Homo sapiens: one gene and its partners. The protein of the gene in region 1 purifies or fractionates together with the protein of each later gene. This does not show direct contact. Each region holds a gene or a part of one and is shown on either strand. Other genes may lie near its edges. The genes, in order: PPP2R2C, TCP1, PPP2R1B, PABIR2, DCAF10, ZNF746 and MTCL1.

Region 1 (4,062 bases):
AATGTCGCTCTAACATGAGCCGCCCACGAGATGGACTGGAGAGAACCTTGTGTGAAGACCCGGACGGGTTCCTGACACCACTGCACGGCACCTGCCATGGGTGACCTGTGCATCCGCTCAGAGCCTCAGCTTCTTCTCGTGGACAGAGGGGATCCTAAGGGTTCCCGCTTATCCCCAGCATCCAGCCCAGAGCCTGGCACGCTTCGAGAAGTTGGTGTTTATGGAGGAAATGAATGAACACCCACCTCACAGTCAGGAGGAAGATTCCAAAAAATCGTGCATGGGAGTCAGTGTCCGCTCCGGGAAGGTGCCCAGTGAATGCTGAAGGGTGAGGCGGCAGGGAGGGCTGCAGAGGGTAAGTCAACTGCCTCTAGGGCTGAGCACCACGCCTGGTACACAGCAGAGGCTCAGCAAATGGCAGGTGAATCAGATGAGGACACAGGCACACAGAAGACAAACCCCACTCCGCTCCTCTCGGGAAACCGCACCAGACCTGGGACCTGGGATGTTTCAAGACATTCAGAAGACCTAGGAGAGGAGCTTGCATCTGCAAATTCTCAGCATGAATTCACCATCCAAAAAACAACGGTGAGGTCATCAGCTCTGAGACAGGGCGAATTGCCCCATTTATAACCAAAAGAACCCCTGGCTGGCTCGTTTGAGACTCATCATCTGTCCCTGGAGCCCTGATCTGGGACCAGTGAGGCATGGGGGAGAAGCAGCTCCCATCAGCTCCGGTCCCTGCAACAGGACGCACTGGAGTGAAAAATTAACCCGGACGCATAAAAAGTCCTATTGATGTGGTAAAGACCGCAGACCGAGACAGGAAGGGACGTGAATGAAAGAACCCTGAACTGTAAGACTCCACAGTCATGTCCATTTTATGATTTGTGGCGGTGAACGCTTCCTTTCCTTTTTATTTTTTTAAACAGACAATTACTGCCAAACACAATTCTGGCCTAGGAAAGCTGGGGCAGGGAGGGGGCCCAAACTTCCTGTGTCCACACACTGCCACCTCTGCAGCTGTCCTCATCAGTGCTGTGACTTTCTTCCCCTCCTTGCATTGCGGTCGTGAAGGTCATGTCGGGGATGACTTGCATGAGGCTGGGTGGCAGGGGCCGGGAACTGCACATACCTAGTGCATGTCAGAGTTTACCTTGTCCTGGAAGATGTACAGGTTGTTGGTGGCGGCGATGGCAATGATGTTCTCAGCCGGGTGCCAGGCCGTGTGCAGGATCTTCTTGGTGAAGTCCAAGCTGTCCACACTGATGTCATCACGCCGGCGCTTGCCCCCCACGCACACGCGCCGTGGCTTGAGCACAGCCCGGGGCTTGCTGCTTTCCCTCGAGGCCTCCAGGGTCACGTCCCGCTTGGTGTTCCGATCGAACATGCGGAAGAAGTTGTTGTAGGCCCCGGTCATGATGACGCTGGTGGGAGAAGGAGAGGCATCAGGTGAGGAGGAGCACAAGCCCCTTCTCGAGAAATAAGCCCAGGTGTGGGGGCTCACGCCCATAATCCCAGGACTTTGGGAGGCCCCGGTGGGAGGATTGCTTCAGCCTAGGAGTTCAAGACCAGCCTGGACAACATAGCGAGACTCCACCTCTACAAAAAAAAATTAAAAATGACCGTAGTCCCAGCTATTCAGGAGGTTGAGGCAGGAGGATCACCTGAGCCTGGGGAGGCAGGAGGATCACCTGAGCCTGGGGAGGCAGAGACTGCAGTGAGCTGTGATTTACCACTGCAGTCTAGCCTGGGTGACAGAGTAAAACTCTGTCCCAAAACAACAAACAAATGAAAAAGCAATCCCAGAGCCTACAGAGCCATCACTCCCTGGAAAGGGAAACCACACCTGCCTCTATTCCCCTGTATCTTGGGGTCTCTTATACCCCCTCACATGTCAGCTGCCACCAACATGCAGACTTTGGGGCCAGGAGCTAAGATCCTTTTTATCCTCTGCCCCAATCATCATGAAAATACCCTCCTGGCCAGGCGTGGTGGCTCACACCTGTAATCCCAGCACTTTGGGAAGCCAAGGCGGGCAGATCACCTGAGGTTAGGAGTTTGAGACCAGCCTGGCCAACATGATGAAACCCTGTCTCTACTAAAAATACAAAAATTAGCTGGACATGGTGGTGGGCACCTGTAATCCCAGCTACTCAGGAGGCTGAGGCAGGAGAGTTGCTTGAATCCAGGAGGCAAGGTTGTAGTGAGCCAAGATCGCGCCACTGCACTCCAGCCTGGGCAATAAGAGCAAAACTCCGTCTCGAAAAAAGAAAAGAAAAGAAAAGAAAAGACCCTCCTGTAATTTCTGTTAGTCCAGGAGAGAAAGCTCTGGCCTTCCAAACAGACTGTGCAACCACAGCAGGAGGTAGACATGGAAGCAGCTGGGACAGAAAACCACCAGGCCCTGCTTCCCTCCAGGGGCCCGCCTGTCCCGAGGACTCGGGCGAATAAACAAACATGCATCGCCATGAGGGTCGGGGCGAGCAGTGCTGACGTGCAGGGGCTCGCTGCCCTCACCGTCCCGCTAAAGAGAATTCCACACCATTTCTCTGCTCTCCCTGCTCCTAAGGAGAAGGGGTTCCTGCCGGTGGGAGGAAGGGTAAGTTCATCCACATAGTAAGAGGCAGGAGAGAAAGCACAGTTCTGTGGGCCTGCGCCCAGAGGGAGGGTTTTGGGGTTTGGCCTCTGCAGGGCCCTGGAGCAGCTGTGAGGTGCAAGGTAACTGGGGAGGAAGAGGATGTTACGAAAAGCGACCATAAAGAAGTTGTCCTGCTGAAGGCTCTTCAGGGAGGAAATCCTGTTTCCTTTTGGAAGCTGAGCTGGGCTTCCTGAGGGTGACACTGCTCTGTGACAGAACCAGGTGGATCCCTGGGTCTCCAGGGGTTATGCACAGAGGACAAAAGCTCACACGTGAGCTCCGGCACTGCAGTCAGGGGCTTGGGCTCTGGCCAGTCCGCCTGGGTCCGGATCCCAGCTCTGCCCTACCCTGACATGCGCACTCTCTTAGTTTTCTATAAGAACTGGGATCAACAAGGGAACGCAGCCCCTGGTGAGCGTGAATCAGGGGACATAGGCTGAACACCCCGCACAGTGCTGGGCTTGAGGCACTTTGCTTCTTGTTATTTACCAGGTACTCCTCGATCCTAATCGTCCATGTGACCAAAGCCGCACCCGCTTTATATGTGACTCAGAGCCTGGGACAAGGGAAGCAGCATGCGAGGGGGGCCGGGTGAACGAGTCCCACAGAAGGGCCCTGCCCAGGCGCCACAGGCTGACTGGGGGAGGCCACACCCTCCCCGCGCCAGCACAGTGGGGAGGCAGCCCCCTTTGTTCTTCAGGGAACAGTTCACAGAATGAACCTGGGTGATTTCACACAATGCTGGTTCTTCTGATCCATTTAGTGGAAGGAGAGCGACATAATTAAAGTCATTTGCAACCCACACAGTTCCTGATCCTCCCCCTGTTCGGGTGTGGAATTCAGCTGACACGTGCTCTGGGGGAGAGGGAGGGGCCCCTCTCATCCTAGAGCACCAGGCCGCACCACCATGAGAGCCATTCCTCACATTCAGGCAGGTTTCTTAAATTCCAGAAGGTTCCCTTAACAGGGAAAAGGGCAGGGGAGCTGCTTCACCTCTCCTAGCCTCATCTGCATGTGGGACCACAACGCCGGCTGCTTTCAGCCCCAGTGCTCCGCTCCTCTTTCCTTTGGGGAAAGAAAGGCTCCTGCCCTCGCCACCCGTGGCGCCTGTAATCCCAGCTACTTGGGAGGCTGCGGCAGGAGAAGTGTTTGACTCCAGGAGGCGGAGGTTGCAGCGAGCCGAGATGGCGCCACTGCACTCCCTATCCCTGTGAGCGGTCAATCACAGTGCTCTCCTCGCCCCTTGGCCTGGCCAACTTGGGCATGTGATATCCCTGTCCATGCTGATTGGTGCAAAAAGTGGGCAAGTGACCCACACAGAGCCAATCAGATCCTTCCATGAGAGTTTTACACAGTCCCTGGGAGGGGTTGGCTGGCTGAGGATAATGGAAAGGGGAATGATTTGGGGGTCATCTCTGAAG
Region 2 (4,062 bases), on another chromosome or scaffold:
CAGATCAATCATTAAGGGCTCCAGAGTGAACAGCATCTTCATAACTTCCATGTTTATCATCTTTACTTTCTGGATGTAATTTAATAAGATCATCAATTCGAAGAATGGTGATTGCAGCTTCTGTTGCAAATTTCAAACTCTTAACTTTAACTATGGTTGGTTCAAACACCCCTGCTTGTTTGTTGTCTCGAGGTTTACCATTGCTCAAATCAAGACCAATCCTGCAATTAAGAAAGAATTATTTAACGGCCGCTTACAATTTCATTAGGTGGCCTATTAACTCCAGCATTTCATTCAAGTATTAAGGTTGATTTTTAAATCAGACTAGAGATCTTGTAGGTAGTCTTTCTACCAAAAGAAGCAGGGAGAGATTAGCAATCACAGTTAACGAAGACACACCAGTGCTAATAATTAGTCATTATCCCTTGAATTACAGTGACTGAACAACAAATGCTTGCTGTGAAGTTTTTCATGTTAAGTATTTGACAAGTCTGTTACTTATGTTTGCTGACATGTAATTGACTACTATCCTTTTTAATGCAACCTGTTCTGCAGAGGTTAACAAAGAGCGGGAAACCATGCTTACCATTTTAGATTTTTACGTTCTGGGTTAACCTGGGCCTCATTATGAAAAGCTCTTAATTTTGCAACCAGATCTGTGGAGTCCTGGGCAGCATTAACTGCTAGTGTATTGGGAATAACAAGAAGTGATCTTGCAAACTCTGCAATCGCAAGCTGTTCCCGAGACCCCTAGGAAAAGAAGAAAATTAGGTGACTTCACAAAAGGGAAAAAAAAAATTGAAGTCCACAGCTACTGCTCTCAGGCCTCTAAGACAAGAAATGACTGTTCTTACCATGCTGGTTGCATAGTTTTCAAGGTATATGGAAAGGGCTGCTTCTACAGCACCCCCACCGGGAACCACAGATTTTGACTCCAAAACTCTCTTCACTACACAAAGTGCATCATGTAAAGAGCGCTCCATCTCATCACACATGAAATCATTTGCCCCACGTAAGATAATCGATGCAGACGTACGAGCCTTAGTACTGTTCAAAACAAAAGTACAATTCTTGTAATAGCATTTTTAAAAATTTTTTTTTGCCAAGACCATCAATTTCTCAAAAAAAATGGCATTTTAATAAAATAAGTCTACATAAAGTTCCCTTAAGTCCTGCCTACACAGGATATTTAGATATACTATACAGAAACAATGTCTAGTCCCTGCAGAAGAGATGAAAATGGTTACTTCATCTCAATTTACAGTGGCCCAATGTTATTTTATCCCATGCGTATAACTGCTCGTATCACTGTGAGACTACAAGCAGCAAATAAATGGGAAGAAAACCTACTTTTACTTAACAAAATCGGTATAACTTTACAATTTTAGAAAGTGGCTCTTACTTTTTGATTAAGATCAGCTCATCATCACAAATTCTCTCCTGTACCACTTCTTCTGCCTGTCCCAACATTGCAGCTTCAAAAGTTTCTTCACCTTCCAAATTGGCCAGGGTTGACAGAATAGTTGCTAATAAGAGAGTTACAAAGGATCTGTGAATATTGCTCTTTCATGATTTTAATATCCTTGGACTCAGTAGCATTTGTGGTAAAAGTGCTATATTACAAGTTTAGAATTTAGTTAGGCAGCACACGGTAACTCCTTTTATCCTAAGATGGAACTGTCATTTTAGAAATGAACAAATTCAGTTCACAAATTTCCAACAAAATTTCTCCAGTTACATGAAAAATGGCTCTATAAATGTGTTGGTAGCACAAAGCATTAAGAGAATATAAATGTTTTTGAGCTGTTTTCTGTCAATATTCCAATGTAAAAAGACCTTTGATAGGATCAGGGATAATAAAAGTATTTTATGTGACAGCCAGCACAAGACATACCTCCAGAAGCTTTGGCAATGCGTTTAAGGTCCCTTTTTAAAACTCTTCTAACTGCCATAGCACCAGCCTCCACAAAATACTTCAGACACATATCATCAATTCCACCAGTGGTTAGAATAACATTGGCACCAGTTGCCAGGATCTTCTGAATTCTCTCCTTGGTGATATCTGATTCTCTGCAAAGTATTTTTGTAACCTGAGTTACCTTCTGTGATTTTTAAAAATAATTTAACTTCCATTAAGTATTTATCACAAGATAATCATAGATCAAATTGTATTATCCTTTGTTATCTCTGACCAGAATTTAAATTAGTCCAATTCATGGAAAATTTGAAGGAATTAAAAATTACCACTTAGCTCTCCCCAACCCAAATTTGAATTACTAATTGAGAACTATGGTTAAACAGGGAACACAGGTCCTGCCTTCAAGGATCTAGTGGGGAGAGGGATTACCAATCACACTCCAGGGCAAGTGTCACTAAAGTGGTATGCAGAGATTACAAGCACATAAAAGACATAAATTTAGCCTAGGAGGTGGACAATGAAGATGAGTCCAGGCCAAGTGCAGTGGCTCACGCCTGTAATCCCAGCACTTTGGGAGGCTGAGGCGGGCAGATCACCTGAGGTCAGGAGTTCGAGACCAACCTGGCCAACACGGTGAAACCGCCTCTACTAAAAATACAAAAAATTAGTTGGGCCTGGTGGTGGGCGCCTGTAATCCCAGATACTCAGGAGACTGAGGCAGGAGTATCACTTAAACCCGGAAGGCGGAGGTCGCAGTGAGCCGAGACCGTGCCACTGCACTCCAGCCTGGGCAACAAGAGCAAAACTCCGTCTCAAAAACAAACAAACAAACAAAAACAGGAGTCCAGAGTTGAAAGCACAAAAGAAGGCAGAACCAGAAAAGTGAAAAACCTTGCAGGTTACACCAAACAATCTAGATACTAAGCTTAATATCTCTAAGCAAGACTAGTATATCATCTGTGTTTTCAAAAGGATTCCCTGATTATCAATGTGGAAACTGCACTGAATGGCTGAAGACAAGAAGATAATAACATGAGATATAAGCTGAAAGACAACCTAAACAGAAAAGTCAAATTTTATGGCTTGGGTGACTCCTGGAGTAAAATAAATAACAAGAGTTTTGGGGGCAGGATGGGAAATGAGAGTTTAGTTGAGGACAAGATTAAGTTTGAAGTCTCTGCTGTTACTCAGGTGAAGCTCCCAGGAGGCAGTCACTTACATCATGGAAACCATAAACTATGGGAGATCCAGATTTGAAGAGTCAATATGAGTGAAGCCATGTGAATAGATCATTCGAAGAATTTTTAAAGTAAAATGAATTACAGATCAACCTCAAAAGCAGCTTGTCTACTAAACAAGTACTGTGTGCTACACACTGTTATATAAACTCATGGTAAAAACTGTAATAAGCCCCAGGAAGAAAAAATACAGGAAGTTACAACAGAATATAATTTAGATTGAAGAAGAAAGAAAAGCTTCTCTAAGAGACTAGCTTGGGTGTGTTTCTACAACAGTCTAGGCAAGAAAATGAAAAGTAGGTAAATTTAATTTGGAGGTAGAAATCAAGCGGTCTTGGTGACAGATTAGGAGAAAAAGTGTTGGTAAAAAGGAGGAGTTAAGGACATTTCCTAGTTTTCTGCCTGTGTGAAGGACTCCCCATCACTAAAATGGTCAAAAGCAGATTTGCGGTATTATCACAAGTTCAGTTTTAGACATGTTCACTTTGAGATGCTTGAAAAGCATTCTACTAGATAGAGGTATGTGTGTTTGGAGCTTAGAGAAACAGCTGAAAGAGTCTCTGGCATAGAGAGATAATACATGAAGTCATGGGAACAAAGGGGCTATCCTGGAGAGTATTATGACATGGTCCAGACAAAGCAGCATCACAAAGCCTTCCATCCCCGAAAGCATTTCAAGAAGGACATAATCAAAGGGTTGCTAAAGGTCAAGTAAGAGGAAGGCTGAAAATGTCTTCCGAATTTCACGCTAGAGACCTTAACATGCAGTCCCTCAAATGGAGAACAGGGCTGAAAAGGGATGAGAAGAAAAGCACCAGAGAAGTTTTGTGTAGTAAACCACTCATGACATCTGCCTGTAAAGATGTACGATAGGGAGTACCTATAGCACAAGGATGTATGAAGAAG
Region 3 (4,062 bases), on another chromosome or scaffold:
TCAAAAAACAAAAAGGAAAAAAAAAAAAAGAAAGAGCTGCTCCCTTTGCCTGGAATGGCATGTCAAAGTCATAAAGATAGAAATGACTTTGTACTATGAGTAAACAGCAAAGTAATTACCTTGGCTAGAATGCAGAGTTTCTATAAAGGAAATGAAAATTTTAAAATTAAGTAAAAAAGAAAAAAAAAACATTTTAATGATGCCTTCAAAGCCTTACTATAACAGAAAGTTGAGGGATAAAAATGAAAACAATATTTGTACAAGTTATTTATAACAGATTAGGACAAAGGTAAGAGTAAGAGTAAAGGAAATCACTTAGAAAGCTTAGTTTTCAAAAAACTCAGATCAGGGTCGCAGTAACAGGAGTGTAGGCAGCATAAGATAATGACTTGGAAAGAAATACACAGAACAATTAAAAGTTAGAAATCAAAAACAAAAATCAGTTGGATTTAAATGTCGAAGATCAAGGACAGAATAACTTTGAGGAAGCTGTGGCTAGAAAAACACAGAAATTAGAAAAGTATGGGATTAATGAACTCAACTTTCCAAATGTAAACAGCCAATGTCAACGTGACACCTACGTCCTTTGAACAAGTGGAAAATATACAAGACAAATCAGTGAGGGGCCAGGCACAGTGGCTCATGCCTGTAATCCCAGCACTTTGGGAGGCCGAGGCAGGCGGATCACCTGAGGTCAAGAGTTCAACACCAGCCTGGCCAACATGGTGAAACCCCATCTCTACTAACAATACAAAAATTAGCCAGGCATGGTGGCACGTGCCTGTAATCCCAGCTACTCAGGTGGCTGAGGCAGCAGAATTGCTTGAACCCAGGAGGCAGAGGCTGCAGTGAGCCGAGATCGCGCCACTGCACTCCAGCCTGGGTGACAGAGCAAAACTCCAACTCAAAAAAAAAAAAACACCGAAAAAAAAGAAACATCAATGAGAAATTAGAAATTGAGACTGTAGATTTGTGTATTATACATATATAAGGTAGAATCTTAATACATGTAAACATTAGCACCCAGGAGAAATAGGTAAAAAATTTTAAGTGTGTACAATAACAGTTATGTATATACGTATACACATACTTGAGAGACATAACAGTGACTCCAACTTCCAAAATATTACAAATCTTAGAAACTGTGTATCAACAATAACTGACTATATGCCAAAGACACACACATTCCTCTGTATGCAGGTGCACAGGCTAAAAAAGACAGGACTAAGTTCTTGGTAGTGACTACACAGATATTTTTGAATTTCGAAAATGATGCTAAATCATGGGACTGCTAATCAACTACTGAAATATAAGCTAATACATATTTGTTAAAAAATTACTTCTCTGGTCTGGTGCAGTGGCTCACACCTGTAATCCCAGCACTTTGGGAGGCCAAGGCGGACAGATCACAAGGTCAGGAGTTCGAGACCAGCCTACCCAACACAGTGAAACCCCATCTGTACTGAAAATACAAAAAATTAGCCAGTCATGGTGGCAGGCGCCTGTAATTCCAGCTACTCAGGAAGCTGAGGCAGGAGAATCACTTGAACCCGGGAGGCAGGGGTTGCAGTGAGCTGGGATCATGCCATTGTACTCCAGCCTGGGCGACAGGAGTGAAACTCCATCTCAAAAAAAAAAAAAAAAAAATTACTTCTCTTCCAGAACTTCGTTTTCTCTCCTACACCTGTTCCTCTTCCCAGAATTTTCTCTATCTTAACGATGACACCATCATCCACCCAGTTGCTCAAGCAAAAAATCTAGGAGATCTTGATTCCTCTCCCACTGATCCAATCCAATAATACTAACCTATTGATCCCACTTCCAAACTGACATCCAAATCCTTTCCATCTTCACTACCACCCTATTAACAACATCATCTCATGCTGAGACTTGAAATGTGGCTGGTACACGTTATTTACACTCAAATAATAAGATTTTGGAAAATTTTGGTCGAATACAAATATTGTTAATTTCACCTATTTCTTTTTTCTTATAAAAACATGGCCAGTAGAAAACTTAAAATCAACAGGTAGCTTACATTATATTTCTGTTGTAAAGCACTGTTTTAAACTATAACATTTAGGTAATAAAAGTGCAAAGAAGGCCGGGCACGGTGGCTCACGCCTGTAATCCCAGCACTTTGGGAGGCCAAGGTGGGCGGATCACAAGGTCAAGAGATGGAGACCATCCTGGTCAACATGGTGAAACCCCGTCTCTACTAAAAATACAAAAGTTAGCTTGGCGTGGTGGCATGCGCCTGTAGTCCTAGCTTCTTGGGAGGCTGAGGCAGGAGAATTGCTTGAACCCGGGAGGCAGAGGTTGCAGAAAGCCGAGATTGCACCACTGCACTCCAGCCTGGTGACAGAGTGAGACTCCTTTTAAAAAAAGAAAAGAAAAGAAAAGAAAAAGTGCAAAGAAAACAAAGGCTGCGCTTACCATAAAAGTCAGGATAATGTTACTCTTAAGGAAATGGAGTGGCAAGTGGAGGAGGAAAGAGAGATTGTGTTTGAAAGGGAATCCATGGAGGGATTCTGGGATAGTGGCTGTCAAAGTGATGTCTCCTATCATAGGTGATCGTTAACAAGTTGGTATTACCTTCTAATAGTTCATTAAGTTATACATTCATTTTGTACATTTATTATTAGAATAAAAATTCTAATAATTTTTAAAATTATTTTCAAAGTAGGATTTAGATCTTTAGATTTAGGATCTGAAAATGAGACTCATTAATATGTGTCCTGGGGCTTGTGGTCCTGTACACATGAAGCGATCTTAGGGCAGGCAACATGCAAATTAAAAGCCCAAAAGGACTATTCTAGAGTCCAGGAACTCTGGGAGCTGATCCTATTAAGCACCATTACAGAGAAGCGGGACAGCCTAGCTGTGAAGGGCACAAATTCTGGAGCCAAACCACCTAGATTCAAATTCTGACTCCACTACTGCTAACTATGCAAACTTCAGCAAGTTACTTAAACTTTCTGTGCCTTTGTTTTCTAATGTGTAAAATGGGCTATCTCATGGGGCTGTTGTAAGGACTGAATTACTTAATACACATAACTACTTAAAGGCAGAGAAAAATTAAGTACTTCATTTGGATGTTTGCTAGTTTTATTGTTATTTCTACACCAAAGAGATCTAGATCTTCAGAATTGAATACGATTATGTGAAGTAATCCCATACACTACTATAGAAGAAGCAGAGAGTCAAATAGCTTTCCTAACACATTCTAAGCTTATTTATCTGAAAAGTCAAAAATTCCAGGAAACATTACTCCCTCATATTACAATACAGCCAGCAATTCCCAAAGGTATGTTACCCTCCATGCAGCTTTGGTCTTCCTTTCTAATTATGGCTCCCATTTCCTCTCTGACTCCCCACTCTTTTAACAGCTGCTAATGTAAGAGAGAAATCATGGTCTGGTTAAGAAAGAAACATAAGAACATTGAGATAAGCATGTTACACTTTAACCAGGCCAGAATCAGCACTAATTCTGTAAAAAGAATCCTAACAAGAAAACTAAAACTCCCCAAAGAAATTCTGAAAATTTAGAGGAAAGGAGCATATCTGTGTCCCTTAAATACTAAGAGTTAGTTTACCTGTTCATCTGAAGCTAGACTAGTGAACAGTGGAACAATTTCACTTTTCACACTGTCTAATTCCAAAACTTTTGCAAATTCACCCAATTTGGAAGCAGCAGCACGTCGTACCATTGGTGTGTCATCTGAGCACAAGGAACGGAATTGCCTGCAACATAAAACAATGAAGGTATTTCCCATCAAATAACACTGAATAAACCTGCCCCCCATACACACAGACAGACTTTTAGAGGTTTTATCTTACAATAATCAGTGACTAAGCTTCTACTTATAGAAGTAACAAAAATAAAACATATTCAACTGGATAATAAAAAATGACATCATAGGCCAGGCATGGTGCCTCACACCTGTAATCAAAGCACTTTGGGAGGCCCAGGTAGGAGGACTGCTTGAGGCCAGGAATTGAAAGCAGACTGGGCAACATAGCAAGACCCTATCTATATGCCAAAAATATTTTTGTTGTTGT
Region 4 (4,062 bases), on another chromosome or scaffold:
AAATATTGGGAAAAAGAGTTAATCTTCTTTTTTTTTTTTTTTTTGAGACAGAGTTTTTGCTCTGTTGCCCAGGCTGGAGTATAATGGTGCGATCTCAGCTCACTGCAACCTCCGCCTGCTTGGTTCAAGCGATTCTCCTGCCTCAGCCTCCCGAGTAACTGGGATTACAGGCGCCTGCCACCAGGCCCAGCTAATTTTTCTATTTTTAGTAGAGACGAGGTTTCACCATGTTGGCCAAGCTGGTCTTGAACTCTTGACCTCAGGTAATCCACCAGCCTCGGCCTTCCAAAGTGCTAGGATTACAGGTGTGAGCCACTGCGCCCAGCCACAAAAAGCTAATCTGAGAGATAAATGTAATGAATGGTACTTCAACCACATTTAAAATTCAAGTTTGCTTACCTTGAAAATCGTCTTGGACTGGGAACTGGACTTGGTGGCAATCCACTGCTGCTCACGAACATCTGTAAGAAGGGTGAAAAACATTACTAGAAAAAACATATTCAATATTAAAATAGTTCTAGCACTCCAGTTTTCTTTCTTTTTTTTTTTTTTTTTTTTTTTTAGAGACAGGGTCTCTCTTTTGCTCAAGCTGGAGTGCAGTGATGCGATCATAGCTTACTGCAGCCTCGAACTCTTGGGCTCAAGCCATCTTCCTGCCCCACCTTCTTGATGAGCTAGGACTACAGGTGTGCGCCACCATGCCCGACTAATTTTTTTGTATCTATTTTTTTTTTTTTAATGTAGAGATGGGGTCTCGCCATGTTGCCCAGGCTGCTCTCGACCTCCTGAGCTCAAGTGATCCTCCCACCTTGGCCTCCCAAAGAGTTGGAATGATTACAGGTATAAGCCACCATACCAGGCCCACAATCATTTTCAAAAGGTTCTTTTCAAAATGACAGAAACAATATCTTTAGAATTGCTTGGCTGTCTGTGTGTCTCATAACTAAATTACATATATATATATGTAATATATATGTAATATACACGTTATATATATGTAATATACACGTTATATGTGTAATATATACACGTTATATATGTGTAATATATACACGTTATATATGTGTAATATATACGTTATATATGTGTAATATATACACGTTATATATGTGTAATATATACACGTTATATATGTGTAATATATACACGTTATATATGTGTAATATATACACGTTATATATGTGTAATATATACACGTTATATATGTGTAATATATACACGTTATATATGTGTAATATATACACGTTATATATGTGTAATATATACACGTTATATATGTGTAATATATACACGTTATATATGTGTAATATATACACGTTATATATGTGTAATATATACACGTTATATATGTGTAATATATACACGTTATATATGTGTTATATATGTTATATATGTGTTATATATACGTTATATATGTAATATATACGTTATATATGTAATATGTTATATATATGTAATATATATGTTATATATATATATATTTTAAGAAGACCAAGAATATACATATATATATGTATATTTTCCAAATTACTGCTGTAGATTTTCATTGATTTTCCTTCAAGGCATTGGATACTTTAAAAGTGGGGTGATTTGTGTGTGTTTTAGAGTAAACAGCTCAGTTTGTGAAATACACTTAATATCTTGTCAGTTATCCTACCTTTCCGAATCCCCTGGTGGGTGAAGGTGCTGGAGAAACTGGAGTGAAGTCAATTCTCTTAGGAGAATATAATTTCTCCGGCTTGTCAAAATCACTGTCACTCTGTAAACATAAAGTGTCATCTCCTCATAATAAATTCAGCACATCACAGCTCTTACTTACTACTATAACACACCCAGATTTTCCAAGGAGAAAGGTATAGACTCTAATATTCTGCTGGAAAAGCAGAGATCAAAAAACAAGTATCAATTTGGAAGTAGAAGGGGAAAGAAGTGTGCGAAAAAATTAATGAACCTAGTGAACAACATAAAAGTTTCTAGAAAATGAAAACCAAACAGACATGAGCAAACTTTACCAGGCTCAAGCTCTCATCCCATGATTGGCTTATCTGCATTGCCGTTTGCATTTCCCTAAAATAAACAAAGGGAAGGGCCGTCAGTGTTTACAAACAAGACACTTATTAGGCTAGGCCCTGCTCTTGCAAAGCACTAACCTTTCATGTGCAGTTTCTCTGTTCACCATATCCAGGCCTTCTTCCTGCAAAGACAAACATATATGCTAAAAAGGCAGGATCACTGACAAAATATTAACTCTTCCACACACTGCAATTTTTATCCACATAGTTCTCTGCTTCAAATAAAATAAAAAGACTTTTTCTACCTCATTGACATAATCACAGTAGAGTGGAACATTCATGCCGCTTGTATATTTTATCTACACGCTCCAGAAGAATTATAATCTGTCTCCAACTAACCAGAGTTGCATCCTAATTCATTTTAATATCTACGTCTTTAAAATAAAAATGTAAAATCCAAAAAATTTCCAATCTGAGCTAGTAAGTAAAATTTACCCTTTTGATCTGATGCAGTCTGCTACTAGGAATACGATTAGGTGAGGATGACAGCAACTGGAAAGAAAAAGTAAACATTTACTATTTTCTGAATCACAAAGCAGCAGTCTGCTGTCAGTACTGGCGTACAACCTCTTCCTAGGTAAGTTTTCATATTCTTCTTCAAAATTTAGCTCTTTAGATCACTGAACGTTAATGCACTAAAGGCAGTACATTTAGTCTTCAAAAAGTACACCAGGTGTCCAACCTCAAAGCGCCATCTGTTGCTAGACAGACACTGACTTCAGCACTTTTCCCAAATGAATGTGAAGCTACGTAAATTTAGAGAAATAAAGACTATGGGCCTTAGAAATATCCATTATCCCACTTATCTAAAATAAAGAACAATATGAGAAGGGAAAGAAAAAAAAACACCAATGTTATTAATTTTTATTATCAATGCAGCAATGGGGGAAGACAGGCTAATAAGTCTAGTATATAATATTTTGTCTATGATTGATGATTTTCAAAAACACTTTAAAACTGCAATAAGGAGGTTTTGCTTTCACGATCCAAATCCATTCTAAAATCTCATCATATGCTATCACTACAAATCTTACTAGTTAACAAAAAACAATTTGGAAAGACAAGGTGTATCTTTAAAATAACTGATGCTTTCCCTTAGATCATCATTTTTTAATAACACAAAGCAGAAATGATTTGGAGGCCAAATTATGTTCCTTCACAATAATTACAAGCTGGTCACAAACTGTAAGACACAATTCATATCAACAGGTCTTAGAGAGTTCTAGTGGTCATAATATAAACGACTACTATTTATTCTATAACGAAATGCAAGTGAACTTGTAATACTATAAAACCAAATAACAATTATCCTGTTTAAGAGGCCCTACACTATTAAAACTTATTTGAATACTAATGTAGTGAGCAGTATAAAATAGTGATAAAATGCTCTAAGTTTCTTTTTATTTTTTTTTGAGACAGAGTTTCGCTCTTGTTGCCCAGGCTGGAATGCAATGGCATGATCTCTGCTCACTGCAACTTCCGCCTCCCAGGTTCAAGTGATTCCCCTGCCTCAGCCTCCTGAGTAGCTGGGACTACAGGCACACACCACCATGCCCAGCGAATTTTTACAACCATTAAGGGAGACTGGAGTATAAGATAAATGTATTTTAGTAGAGACGGGGTTTCATCATGTTGGCTAGGATGATCTCGATCTCCTGACCTCGTGATCCTCCTGCCTTGGCCCTCCAAAGTGCTGGGATTACAGGCGTGAGCCACTGCGCCCAGCCACTGGTGAACTCTTAATAAGATCATTTAGAAAACACCAAGCTACAAGGCAAGCAAATACAGCAGGAAGACTCTCCAACAGGAGACTGTGGAAGAGAGCGCAGACGTGTCACTTAGGGAAACCCAAGAAACTGAAGAAGCAGTGAAATGATCAGGAAAGCTGACATGAGGATGGCCAAAAACTAACTGGGGAGAAAGTCAGAAATTTACATGCTACATTTACATAATATACAACTTGACAATTTTAGACAAAACTGGAAAGAAG
Region 5 (4,062 bases), on another chromosome or scaffold:
CTCTAAAATTGCTTTCATTTACTATTATTATTTTTTAAATAATGAAAACACTTTCTGGGAATTGTCTTAAGCCCAAATGGGTAGAGAAGAATTTTTTTTTTTTTTTTTTTTTTTTGAGACAGAGTCTCGCTCTGTCGCCTAGGCTGGAGTGCAGTGGTGCAATCTCGGCTTACTGCACCCTCTGCCTCCCGGGTTCAAGTGATTCTCTTGCCTCAGCCTCCTGGGTAGCTGGGATTACAGGTGAGCACCACCACGCCCGGCTAATTTTTGTATTTTTAGTAGAGATGGCGTTTCACCATGTTGGTCAGGCTGGTCTCGAACTCCTGACCTTGTGATCCACCCACCTCGGCCTCCCAAAGTGCTGGGATTACAGGCATGAGCCACTGCGCCTGGCCGAGTAGAGAAGAATTTACTGCTGATTAAGGTTGTGTTTTTCAACCTGCAATCCCGAGACCCTCAGAATAAAGATTACTTGAGGTTGCTATGAAAAATACAGATTCCTGTCCTCCCCCTGGCTGAATCAGAATCTCATAAGGTGAGGCTCAGGTTTCTGCACTTTTCACAAGCTCTGTAATGGTTACAGTGCACCCTAATGTTTGAGAACCAGTGGCCTAAAGAGAATGCAACCTAAGAGGGCAAGGCTAGTGCATAGCTTAAATCGCTCCAGCCTTTGGTAATCCCTTCTAAACACAGTACCACCCATGTGGAGGAGACTGCAAGGAAGCTGTTATTCAAAGTAGAACAGTCAGCCTTGTGCTTGAGTCCTGCTTTATGCTTGCGTGTTTCATAACAAAACACAAAGGCAAGTCTTCATATCAGCACTTAGTCTTGATATCCAAGTAGCTGACTACTGTACTTATGATAACAGCTTGAAGAGGACTGCAACTCTCCCCTCACGAATGGTGACAGAGTTGGCTTGTCACACCTGGCTCAGGGAAGAAAAATGAGTAAACCCCTACCTCTTTACTCTTGATTCCTCTTCCACCCTAATACTGTTAACACATCATCCTGTGTGATTCAAATAATCTGGCAGATGAAATACAGAAAATCTAAGTCATATTGTTCTTATCACTCTATGGCCAGATATTATACTAATCTAATTTTAAAAATCCTTTTCTGTGCAATAGAAATAACCAAAGCTCATTCTGTCTCCTTTCCTTTCTAATGCTGTTGATAGGAACAAAATATCAAGTAAGGATACATGCTAGAGATGTTAAATTCATACAAGTAAAGTAAATTACAAAGAGAGGTGGTAATATTTTTTTCTAGAATTTCACAATAAAATCCCTCTCACCATGAAAATCTTTTTATAATTTTAACAGGAAACTTAAAAGACATTTTGTTGCAAGACTATCTTAACAATTATAAGAATAATGCCATTATCTGTGCTCAATATAGATAAACATAACAGTAACTTTAAAAGGCCAAGTATACTCATAAGTGAGGATGAAATTTATTTTTCAACAACCAATATGCCAATATCCAACTTCTAGGTTTTATTCAATTCTAATGTCATGGGTTTCTCCTACCCCAGTCAAAACTCCTGCCAAATGTCCACAAAATTGACACCAAAATCAACAAACACAAAGAAAGAGAGGGACAGGGAGAGGGAAAGAGAAATAGAGAGTGAGGAAGGAAGGAACGTGACAAGAGCTACCATGCAAAATGACCAGAAGAACTGGAGTTCAGTGGCACAGATCAGCAGGAGCAGAGGAATGCTGCAAAAGATGATGCTGCATAGAGTCTAACTTGGAGATGCCTGTATGATGCTGGATGACCAAGTACTAAGGTCACAAGTGTGTTCATGGACCCATAAGAACCAGGATCTTGACCCAAACTTATAAGATCTTCTAAAAAGAAAATACTTCATCTAAATTGAAGCAATTCCTAAGTCAAACACCAGAAGAGTTCCTTATTTGATGTAAGTTGTGCCTAAAACTTTGGCTGATACAAAGAAACCCGTCCACTAAGGCACCCTGAGGCAATCTGACAATGTGTTGGAGAGAACTTTGTTGTCAGTACCACATCATTATGAGAGTACAGAGAACGGATCACCCGCAGGGGACTGGCTTCTTTGGGCAAGCAGTCAACAAGTTCACTGCACTGTTTGTCAAATCCCAACAAGCGAATCCCATAGCCATGTGGGGAAGAAATCATTCGTCCATCGGGGCTGAAGCAAAGTTCTTTGATGTAACCCCTGCCTACATTGGCTTCTTCAATGTAATGAGTCAGTCGTAGAGAACAGCGAGGTGAGACAGGTCGCACTGGAGCTCCTTCTTGGAATTCATAGACACAAGTACACTAGGGGGAGAGAAGGGAGACAAACCAAGGTTACAGAGCCCAAATAGTGCTACAGATATTCCTTATTTTTAAAAAGCTCAACAGATTGCCAAAGCCACAGAATTTTTACAAGAAATCACTCAGAATAATGCTATCCCCCTCCCAACTAACAAAACTTGTAGGCCCCCTACTTTCTTATCTTCATAAGCTGAGGTTATTCTGTGTTATGATGCTTTAAAGCCTTTTGTTCCCTGAGGCTGCCTGTGACTTTTGCAGTAATACATTCTCTTTTCTAAGGGCAACAACAATGTTGATATTTTAAAAATTCCTGGAGTACATCCAAGCCCTAGAGTATCTTACCTCTTCCCCTACACAATTCAAAGGCTCTTCTCTTCTCTCCTTTCAGTTGTGGCCTCTAGGACCAGTGAGATCCTTGGAAGACTCTTGCTTTCCAGAGTGATGAGAATCATAAAGTCATTTAACACCTTTCCCCCTAGTCATCAGTATAGTCCCTTCCTTTCCCAGAGTTTCCCCTGGTTTTTAAAAAAAGAAAATTATGATACTCAATTGGCTTAGTAAAATCTCACATTTAGCCAGCTTAGCTGAAACATTTCAGACCTATGTTTATTATACAAGGGGTTTTTGTTTGTTTGTTTGTTTGTTTGTTTAGGGTGAGATGAAAGAGGCAAGATTTAAGAAGCTGGGCAAAAACTGAGCTGATGCTGGCCTTTAAAGTACCTCCCACCTTGCTCAACCCCAGCAGGAGAGGAATAAGAAGAGTTTGGAAGGGATAATGATACCATATGAAGCAAGAGAGGACAGAAACAGGAGAGTCGAGAAGCAGGATCTCTAGCAGTATGCCCTTGAAGGCAGAGACTGCAGTCAGCGATCGGCCTAAGCTCTGCACACACGGCAATGGCAATTTGTCCAATGAGCCCTGTTGAAGGTGGAGTGCTGCTGCCTGTACCTCCTCATCATCACTGTTGCTTGAGCACCGAAGAAGAGTGGCCCAGCCTTTTGGGTGCAGCTGTAAGGACGTGATGCAGTTTCCGTGGTCACTCTCACCAAGAACTTCAGGGGTTACGACTTCAAGACTATTTCGTGGTGAAACTCCTGAGATATAAGAAAATGAGGATGTGGGATTTGTATTATCAAAAAACTAAGGCAGTTCATCAAAGCTTTTTATTTCTGGCAGCCACCTCCCATGCCGTCATTCCTTAGTCTGCCCCTTATGCTACCATATGTTAAAGAGCGTGGTACTCCCCAATGTATGGTGTGTGAGTTTTGGCGGGGTGAAGGTGTGGGGAAAGGGTATAAATAGAACAAAAGATCCAAGTTCCCACAGCAGTAATTGTCACTGACCTAAGGCTAAGGCATAGAAGCTGACTAGGGGTTCTTTTATTTGGATCTTACATCTCAGAAAGCTCTTTATTTAAGTAAGAACCAAAGTTATGTGACATGAAAGGACTCTAGAAAGGTAAAAGGTAACAATTCTCCTCTCATTGGTCCTGGTGCTTTCTGGTCCAGAGAAGGAAATACTTGGAAGCCATGAGGATTGCCTTTTAAGCAAATAAAAAGATCAGGACTTAAGCACCTGCAATAACAACACTATAAACAAAAAATAAAATGTTGGAGGTAAGAAAGGACACCTCACATAAAGGCATGTCAAAACAAGGGATGGGAGACATTGCCAATCATAGACTCTACTATGCCTCATCATTTCCTTCTACCTAACTCCCAATGAAAATGACTGCTGGAGTAAGGCACTGTTAATAATAGGAA
Region 6 (4,671 bases), on another chromosome or scaffold:
TCACGGTGCTTATCACCCTACACAATAATTTCCTACCCACACCTACACTGTGGGCTCCCTGAACATGGTATTGCATCTTTTCATACCACTGTCCTTGACACATGGCAGGTACCCAGTGCAATTTTGTTACGTAAACAGTGACTTAGCATTGCTGGGCATTTTAGTGGAGAAATGGTAAACTGCAGATTTACTAGAGCGCAGCCTGCACCTCCCCTCATGATTACACAGGAACTGTCTACTGATGATGACCCAGCAAAAAAAACAGCTGGTTCACTGAAACGGCACAAACAAGAGTATTGCTCAATTTCTTTTTTCTTTTTTTGTTTTTTAAAGCATCTCATGTCCCCTTTTAACAAACATAAAAATCTAATGGCCAGTTCCTCTTCCCCCAGGACAGTCTCATTTTGTCACCTTCCCATCTGCCCCTCCCCCACAAGCTAAAATCCCCATGACTGCAAATCTCCATCAGTCCAGAGTTAGGCTTTTTGACACTGCCTGAGCCCTACAAGATTCTTTCTCTTTCCCAATTCCCACCCCCTCAAGGTAAAAATGACGGCCTCCGACATTTTTGTAGCTGTACCAGGAGCAGTGACATACCCTGCAGTCTGGTGAGGAAAGTACATATATGCCACAGTTAGACTTGTATATGGACAGCAACCATCTTAATTAGAGACGGGGGCCTTCCCTGTCATTGGAAATGTTCACATGGCGTATCAGTGACCGGCAGCTGGGACAAGGAAGAATGGGCACATTTTGCGGTGGGTAGGGAGCTGGACTGTTTGAGCCACCCACATCTGAATGTGGGACCTACAGGGCACAGAGGAGCTCCTGGTATCGGGACCTGAGGATCAACGCCTCCTTACAACATTCTGCAAAATAATTCCTCAACAAAAGGTTGGTGATTATTTCCAAAATGAAGAAGTAGCTACTAGAAACCAGTGTGGATTCACTTAGAGAAAGTCACTGAGAACTAGAATGCGGATGGACAGCTCAAAAAATAGAGACAAAAGGAGAGTTTGAGCAGAGGGAGAAACAAACTTGTCTAGGACAGTGCTTAAGATACTATCTATTTGGAAGGAAGCAGGACCCAAAGAAGGTAGGACTCTAAGGGGTCTTCAAGGCTGGGAGATTCTGGACAAGCTGAACTGTTTCTAGGCGAAAACCCCAATGCGGGTGGGAGTCTTGCTCTCAAGGAGTAGGTGGTCCTACAGCACCTGGGTGGGCCAGCGTGGTTCTGGGCTTGAGTCCACCCTCCACCTAAGGCCACTGTTCCTTCCCTCACCTCTCCTTTCTCAGATCAATCCCTGTCACGTGATCCCAGACGCCAAGAGTTTACTCCAGAAGCTTCCTTTCAACTGGTCACCAGCTCCTTATCCACTGAAATCCTACCCATCCTCCACGTGCATTATTATGGGCTTTGTGTGGCATGAAAGGGACCTCTGCTAAACTACTTTATTAAGAAAATATTAGTCTTTTACTCATGGACAACAAGGTGCATGGTTTTCTTACAGTTCTGATGGGGCCAGGAAACCCTGTGTAAGGTCTTCACACTATGTGGTGGGAGGTGGCGACTGTGCGCTGCTCACTCCAGCCCAGCTTCTTACTGACAAGTGGCTGGAATATGTGGGGCTGTCCTTGGACTCCTGCCAGGGGAGCTGAAACTCTTTGCTTGAGAGGAGCTGATGGTAAGAGGAGCCGGATCCCTCATCCACTGCCCACCCGCAGGATGAAGTCCAGGCATGCAAACCCCTTCTTAGTCTCTCTCTGCAGACTCCTTTCCCACTGCCTCCAAACCAAAACCATCTTCTCCAGGCTCATGGACTCCTTTCTGTGCCTGCACACGCCCTGCACTGTCCCGTCTCTCTGCGCCTTTGCCCAGGCACTCCTCCCTCCCTGAAAGCACCACCGGTCTAGCTGGGCCTGAAATCCTAGCCTTCCCTAAAAGCCCGGCTCAAATCACAGAGGCGCAGAGCATCAGGCCAGGAGGGGTGGACAGCGGTACCAAGAGGCCCCCTGACACTCCTTCCCCCGGAGCCCACCGCAAGCTTCCACCTGGGCGCCAGCACTCACCCCTTTCTGTTTTGCACGATTATTGCCCGCGTACCTGCCTGCCTGGTCCTTGAACACACAGCCACTGTGTGTCTTTTCACACTTTCCAGCTGGGTAAGCCTGGGCAAGTTAAGTTCTCTAGGCCCCGGGTTTTTCTTTTGTATGACAGAGATTAACACCAGTACCCATCCCACAGGCTTGCTGTGAGGACAGACTAACGCCTCAACAGGGCTTGTGGAAGTGCGTGGCTCTATATTCCCTTCCGCGCCGACCCCGGGAAGCTGGGCACGTAGTGGGAGTCGGTGTATGCGGATTCGAAGCCGGACACCTCCCAGGTGCCACCAGGCCGCTGCGGGGGAGATGGAGAGGGACCTACAGGCCGAGCGCCAGGCAGAGAAAGGAGCCGCGGGTGGGGGGGCACCCAGAAGGAGGGGACAGCGGCTGGGGCGGGGGCAGGAAGCCCCGGAGGGCCCAAAGAACTTGGCGTGGGGCGGCCCGGGGCGGGGACAACCGTTCCGCCAGCGCTCGGGTTCGGCTCGGAGTGGGGGCCCGGCCGACGGGCGCAGTAGGCCCCGGCGGACCCCGCGCCCCATTCGCGGGAGCCCCAGGCCCGGTGGTCCGGCCCGGACCCCGGAACCCCTCCCCAGGGCCTGCGGCGCCGTGTGCCGGGGCCGGGCCGCCTGGGGCCCCCAGGCCGCGAGTCCCTGCGCGCGCGGGTCGCCCTTACCGGAGCCGCGACCGCCTCGGCCATGGCCCTGCGCTGTCCCGCCCGGCCCGGAGGAAGTCGTCGTCGCCGCCGCCGCGCGCGGCACCACGCAGGCCCGGCCGCCCGGTGCTCTCCGCAGGCGGCGCCTGCCTGGCCTTTCCTCTGCCGCCGCTCCTCGCTGGCTGCCCCTGCGCCGCGCCGCCCGCAGTCGCGCCGCCTCCGTCAGCGCCCGGCCGGTCCACACTGCATCCTGGGAGCCGGCGCCGCGGCCCGGCAGACGAAGGCCCGTGAGGCTTCCTGGAGGCAGCGCGGCCGCACAGCCCCACCTGCAGCCTGAGAGGCGAACGGCAGGCGCTGCGCCCGCCTGCCCGCGGCCCCGCCCCGCCCCGCCCAGCCCCGCCCGCGGGGCCCGACGGGAGGACCTAGCGACCCCGGGCCGACCCCGCGACCCCGCGACCCCGCGACCCCGGCCGGACTGCCGAGCGCGGGGGGAGTCACTGCGCTGGCCCCGCGGCCCAGCCCGAGGACTCGGTTATTGAAAGGGTCCCCCTCATGGGACCCGCCTGGCCGCGCCCGCGGGCGAGCACGGGCTTCCGGGCAGGGCGTCCCCCGGGTGACCGCGGCCAGGGCGGCCCCCTCGCCCTGGGATGCCCGGCTCCCCTTCCCCCGCCCCACGGGCACTTCTGCTGCCCGAGGTCCTGGGTCTGGAGGTTTAGGCTATTTTGGGGAGGACAGATGTAACTCATGCCCACCTGTGTTTGAAATGGAATAAATACTTCCAACAACAGGAATATAGTTCGGTAAACCCCGGTAGGCAACCACTTAGCATTTTCTGTAATGGGTTTATTACAGTAAATTTTTTTAATGGCATGAGCAATGGGACGCAATACCATCATTTAAAATGATTTCGGTGAAGGTCTTGGTAGGAACAGATGTTCATGATGTTTTAAGAGAAAAAGCCTGTCCAGGACGATCCTGTCTTTGTTTTAAAAATAACATTTTAAAACAATATAGGACATATGTAGCGTCATATACTGCGTACATGTATAATTACAGTTTTGAAAAGTTTGGAAGCATATATATCAACATGGCCTCAGTAGTTCTATTAAAGGTCTATTCCTTTAATAGACCACGGGCCGTTTTTATGCCTTTTCTAATTTTTTCCAATTCATGTTTTTATTTTTCCATGACAAGGATAGTATTTTTAAACAAGGAGAGAAAAATAAAAATTTAAATGTTCTCAAAGAGGCCAACCAGAGCAGGGGAAGGAGGGCGCCTTGGACGGGCCCCCACGTAGTTTCAGAGGCTCATTGCCTTTCAGGAACACGACTTGCTCATCTGTGTATTCCCCAAGACTAACTAGCCAACTGCCTAGCACACACTGATAAGAAAATATGTGAGAGATCTGTAATCTTTTTCAAAGAAGGCAGACCTTACAGAATAGATAAAATTTGAGCTGGATCTTGAAGAATTGGCAAAATATTGATAGGCAGAGAGCATTTCAGACCAGAGGGTGGTAGTAGAGGTGTGAGCTGGATGACAGCCCAAAAAAAAATTGATGTAGGAAGATATAAAGCATTTTAGGGCCGGGCGCAGTGGCTCACGCCCGTAATTCTAACACTTTGGGAGGCCAAGATGGGTGGATTGCCTGAGCTCAGGAGTTTGATACCAGCCTGAGCAACATGACAAAACCCCGTCTCTACTAAAAATAGAAAAAATTAGCGAGGCGTGGTGGCACGCACCTGTAATCCCAACTACTGGGGAGGCTGAGGTACGAGAATCGCTTGAACCCGGGAGGCAGAGGTTGCAGTGAGTGGAGATCACACCACTGGGTGACAGAAATACAGTGCATTAGAAATAAAGAGACATTTTTAGTGTGCAATTTAAAAAGTTCCCTTTTGACAGGCTGAGTCGGA
Region 7 (4,062 bases), on another chromosome or scaffold:
CTCCTAGAGGAGGTCAACTGGAGACTGAAAGCTTTAAAATGAGCCTTGTGGTTGTCACTCTTTCGATAGAGTGGGAAGTTAGTTCTGAATCTTCAAAAATCAACGTCAAGTTTGATTCACACCCCATCCATGAAACTAATGGATCAGACTTTGAGAAAGAACCTAACCGCAATGCTTGTTTCTGAGTAAAGAGGTTAATTGTTTCACTGAGTCATTAATACAAATCAGTTCAATACAAGCAATAATCACTAAATGTTCAACACTAAGTCAATATCTGTATATGTATATGTACATGTATATCCACACATACAAATATACAGTGACTCTGGCCATTCTGTTCATGGAAAGAATGGTTTGTGATTGCTTTTCTTTCCAGAAAGCCTGCCAAAGTCATTAATGCCTGGGATTATCGGCAACTAAGACAAAAGTTTTTAAAATGCAATATAGCCCTAAGATGCAAGATACAGCTTCCAGGTATAAAATGTCTCTAGCTTTCAGACTTTGCAACTGGAGAGCCCACATCCACCCTAATGTTAAATGCTGCATTTTCATACAGATGTTACAGGCTATGAAAACTGTTCAAGGGCTAGATGCACCCACACCTCCACATCATTGAGCAGACCAGATGTAAATAGCAATATTTTTTGGCACAAATAATCACCAACATTAGTTGTACTGCAAATAAAATTAGGGGCCGGGTGCGGTGGCTCACGCCTGTAATCCCAGCACTTTGGGAGGCCGAGGCGGGCGGATCACAAGGTCAGGAGATCAAGACCATCCTGGCTAACACAGTGAAACCCTGTCTCTACTAAAAATAAAAAAAATTAGCCAGGCGTGGTGGCGGGCACCTGTAGTCCCAGCTACTCGGGAGGCTGAGGCAGAAGAATGGCGTGAACCCGGGAGGTGGAGCTTGCAGTGAGTGGAAATCGCGCCACTGCACTCCAGCCTGGGCGATGGAGTGAGACTCCACCTCAAAAAAAAAAGAGAAAAGAAAATTAGGGAGAGATCATATGATATGGTTTGGCTGTGTCCCCACTCAAATCTCATCTTGAACTGTAGCTCCCATAATCCTCACGTGTCACAGGAGGGACCCAGTGGGAGGTAACTGAATCACGGGGGCGGGTTTCTCCTCTGCTGCTCGTGACAGTGAGTAAGTCTCAAGAGAGATCTAATGGTTTTATAAACGGCAGTTTCCCTGCACACGTTCTTACGTGCCTCCATGTAATATGTGTCTTTGCTCCTCCTTTGTCTTCCACCATGATTGTGAGGCCTCCCCAGCCATGTGGAACTGTGAGTCCATTAAACCCTTTTTTCTTTATAAATTACCCAGTCTAGTGTTTCACAGAAGTATAAAAATGGACCAATGCACCATAACGGCATGTATTTAAATCACTGCTCTTATAATTCATATTTTACCTAAATTTACAGAACAGGCGTCGTTTATTAAGCACCTCACCCTCATTACTAACCCTACAATAACCCTGTCAGGAACACATTATGCAGTTGATAGACAAAAAAACAAAACTGAGGCTAGTTACCTGTGTCCAAAGCTTCACATCTAGTAAATTGAAGCCACACTGCAAACCCAGGCCTGTCTGCTTTCAATCACACACTCTTTCGAGTAAATACCATAAATTATTTGCTTCAACCTGGACAAATGAAACAATAACAGACCTTCAATTGTACTTTTAAAAGTCCACCATCAGTGTAAAACAAAAAAAGCAGCCTAACATTTACAGCTCGACAAGTGACGACACAAAGCATATCCATTAGGGCAACTGGTTCTTAGGAAGACACTGCAACGTGCGGTAAAGATATCCGTGCCCCTTCCCCGCTTTTTTTAAAGAGACAGAGTCTCACTCTGTGACCCAACCTGGAGCGCAGTGGTGCAGCCATGGCTCACTGCCACCTTGAGCTCCTGGGCTCAAGTGATCTTCCTGCCTCAGCCTCCTGAGTAGCTGGGATTACAAGCACATGCCACCATGCCTGGCTAATACTCCCATCTTTAAAACGAGGAAACTGAGATTCTAAAAGTATAAATGGCTTTCCACCATTATTGGTCTGCTGCAGCAATAGGACCAGGGCCAGTGTTTCAACTCTTCCCAGAGAGCCTAGAAAAAAGTAATTTTCAGGTTCAGTGAAAAGAAGTTAAAGACAAGCAAATTATAAACCATGTAAGCTGGCAGCAGCCATCTGAAAAGCAAAAACTATGATTACTGGAATTAGGGTCATGATGGATAGTGATTTTCAAACTAACATTACATTAATTTTCTGACGGCATGCTCCAATTTAGAAAACTGTATTGCAGAACCTTAATGACATCTGCCAACTAAAAATTTAAGTAAACCAAATCGAGCAGAGCATATGATGTTTCTGACAGGTGTAATTTAGAGATAGTACATAAAATTGGAAAATCGCTGTTGTCTTTTTATACACGGAAATAAGAAAAAGCTGTCCTTAATAGTTTTTTACTGAATTAACATCAAGTCTGGAGGATACTTAAGTATTAAATCATTATCTCATTGAAAAGCTAGTTTTAATTAAATACCTTTTTAAAGTTTTGTATATAAAACGAAATCTTGAAGTACTGTGAAGTCCAGTCGACTATTCCCCTTTGCCTGTGGCTGACAAATCAAGCCTTATCATGTATCTCAAATTAGAGGAATAATGAGGTACCAGGTGTGCACTAGAGTAAACCAAGATTAAAATTATATGTTTTAATGAAAACCTCTAAAAGGATAGTTTTATCCATGAATATATAATAAAAGTCAAATCCATGGCTTCTTAGTATAAGTGATGAAAACTCTTAATCATGTTAATAACTATATGAAAATCTTAATCTCTTTTAAATACCCAAAATCAGTAACTATCTCTATTTTAGCACCTCCTCTTTAAATAGACCCAGTTTGGATGGTAGAAGGAGTCCTCTGGCTACTGCTGCAATAATTCTATCTTCTGGGCAGACAGAAACTACTGTCTTTTGTAACATACGAATAATCCACCTCATTTCCCTCCAGACAAGGGAAATGTTCTCCAAGAGTCCCAGCTGTAACTAAGGAGGTGCAGGGCGACTCCCACTGTCTACCAGGTGATGGTCCAGCCAGCAGCTGGTGGCCGCAGCCCTTGTCTACATTAACTGCCACTGAAAATGATCATAGCCACTCTTTCAGTGGCTGAATACAGAGTGGGTATGGACAGCGAATGTCAGGAAAGAATGGGGAATACTGTCCATGTTAACCCTTCTGAAAGAGAAAGGAGGAGGAGGCGGGGAGCAAGGAGGCGCTGAGACACCTCAGCTACAGAGCACTGCTTGCGCTCCTCTCCAAGTGCCCCTCCACCCCCAGGCCACACTGAGCACCCGGCATCTGGGCAGCCCAGCTGCCAAATGTCAAAAACCAGGTCAGGGCCTGAAACTCAAAAGGCTAACTCCAATGAGAAGCAGGATGGTAAGCTTGGATCAGCAGTGAGACACTGCAACCTATAAAACCAAAACTCAACCTCTCCCTTAGGAAATCATTCCTCTCCAAGAAGCCAATTTTCTCTGCCCTTGTATCTAGCACCAACTTGTTTTCTTTTAACAGAAAAATATTTCCTATGAAATAACTGAGAAAGCAAAGCAAAGCAAAAAGAAACAGCTCTTCCCACCCCAATCCTCACCCACCCTGCAGGAGGTCAGCATGGCAAGAGGACACTATTTGGGGGTGGGGGAGGTGTGGGGTTATGGCTGCTAAAAGCATTTTCAAAATAGGCTCATAAATGCCAACTGATTAAATCCTCCTGAAAAGCCTGTGGAAACAGAGAACATAATTAATATGTTGACAACGAGCACTCCGGCTTGTCTGACTGTCTCCGAGCACTCGAGCAAAACACAGTCTTGGCAGCCTGGCAGGGAAGGAACACACCAGCGCTTTACCAAAGTCCTCAGCATTAAGAAAGTGCCTGGGTTCAACCTACAACATGGGAGAAAATTTTTGCAACCTACTCATCTGACAAAGGGCTAATATCCAGAATCTACAATGAACTCAAACAAATTTACAAGAAAAAAACAAACAACCCCATCAA

Evidence for each region.
Region 2: the proteins of PPP2R2C (region 1) and TCP1 purify together in Homo sapiens (affinity purification with mass spectrometry; 6 studies listed by BioGRID and IntAct, with this or other methods). This does not show direct contact.
Region 3: the proteins of PPP2R2C (region 1) and PPP2R1B purify together in Homo sapiens (affinity purification with mass spectrometry; 6 studies listed by BioGRID and IntAct, with this or other methods). This does not show direct contact.
Region 4: the proteins of PPP2R2C (region 1) and PABIR2 purify together in Homo sapiens (affinity purification with mass spectrometry; 4 studies listed by BioGRID and IntAct, with this or other methods). This does not show direct contact.
Region 5: the proteins of PPP2R2C (region 1) and DCAF10 purify together in Homo sapiens (affinity purification with mass spectrometry; 4 studies listed by BioGRID and IntAct, with this or other methods). This does not show direct contact.
Region 6: the proteins of PPP2R2C (region 1) and ZNF746 purify together in Homo sapiens (affinity purification with mass spectrometry; 3 studies listed by BioGRID and IntAct, with this or other methods). This does not show direct contact.
Region 7: the proteins of PPP2R2C (region 1) and MTCL1 purify together in Homo sapiens (affinity purification with mass spectrometry; 4 studies listed by BioGRID and IntAct, with this or other methods). This does not show direct contact.

Annotation. Positions count from the first base shown.
Region 1 is NC_000004.12:6,322,167-6,326,228, forward strand, and holds part of PPP2R2C (protein phosphatase 2, regulatory subunit B, gamma), read right to left. Parts: intron 1,428-4,062; coding exon 1,136-1,427; 3' UTR 1-1,135. UniProt on the Homo sapiens protein: The B regulatory subunit might modulate substrate selectivity and catalytic activity, and might also direct the localization of the catalytic enzyme to a particular subcellular compartment.
Region 2 is NC_000006.12:159,779,041-159,783,102, forward strand, and holds part of TCP1 (T-complex protein 1 subunit alpha), read right to left. Parts: intron 2,071-4,062; coding exon 1,895-2,070; intron 1,527-1,894; coding exon 1,403-1,526; intron 1,342-1,402; exon of another isoform or gene 1,210-1,341; intron 1,048-1,209; coding exon 855-1,047; intron 751-854; coding exon 587-750; intron 222-586; coding exon 5-221; 3' UTR 1-4. UniProt on the Homo sapiens protein: Component of the chaperonin-containing T-complex (TRiC), a molecular chaperone complex that assists the folding of actin, tubulin and other proteins upon ATP hydrolysis.
Region 3 is NC_000011.10:111,756,208-111,760,269, forward strand, and holds part of PPP2R1B (serine/threonine-protein phosphatase 2A 65 kDa regulatory subunit A beta isoform), read right to left. Parts: intron 3,745-4,062; coding exon 3,597-3,744; intron 1-3,596. UniProt on the Homo sapiens protein: The PR65 subunit of protein phosphatase 2A serves as a scaffolding molecule to coordinate the assembly of the catalytic subunit and a variable regulatory B subunit.
Region 4 is NC_000023.11:134,787,073-134,791,134, forward strand, and holds part of PABIR2 (PABIR family member 2), read right to left. Parts: intron 2,565-4,062; coding exon 2,508-2,564; intron 2,195-2,507; coding exon 2,151-2,194; intron 2,068-2,150; coding exon 2,013-2,067; intron 1,760-2,012; coding exon 1,658-1,759; intron 462-1,657; coding exon 400-461; intron 1-399.
Region 5 is NC_000009.12:37,859,379-37,863,440, reverse strand, and holds part of DCAF10 (DDB1- and CUL4-associated factor 10), read right to left. Parts: intron 3,394-4,062; coding exon 3,248-3,393; intron 2,814-3,247; coding exon of another isoform or gene 2,781-2,813; exon of another isoform or gene 2,641-2,780; intron 2,302-2,640; coding exon 1,933-2,301; 3' UTR 1-1,932. UniProt on the Homo sapiens protein: May function as a substrate receptor for CUL4-DDB1 E3 ubiquitin-protein ligase complex.
Region 6 is NC_000007.14:149,494,737-149,499,407, forward strand, and holds the start of ZNF746 (zinc finger protein 746), read right to left. Parts: upstream 3,074-4,671; 5' UTR 2,801-3,073; coding exon 2,777-2,800; intron 2,629-2,776; exon of another isoform or gene 2,071-2,628; intron 1-2,070.
Region 7 is NC_000018.10:8,711,726-8,715,787, reverse strand, and holds part of MTCL1 (microtubule cross-linking factor 1), read right to left. Parts: intron 1,647-4,062; exon of another isoform or gene 1,539-1,646; intron 1-1,538. UniProt on the Homo sapiens protein: Microtubule-associated factor involved in the late phase of epithelial polarization and microtubule dynamics regulation.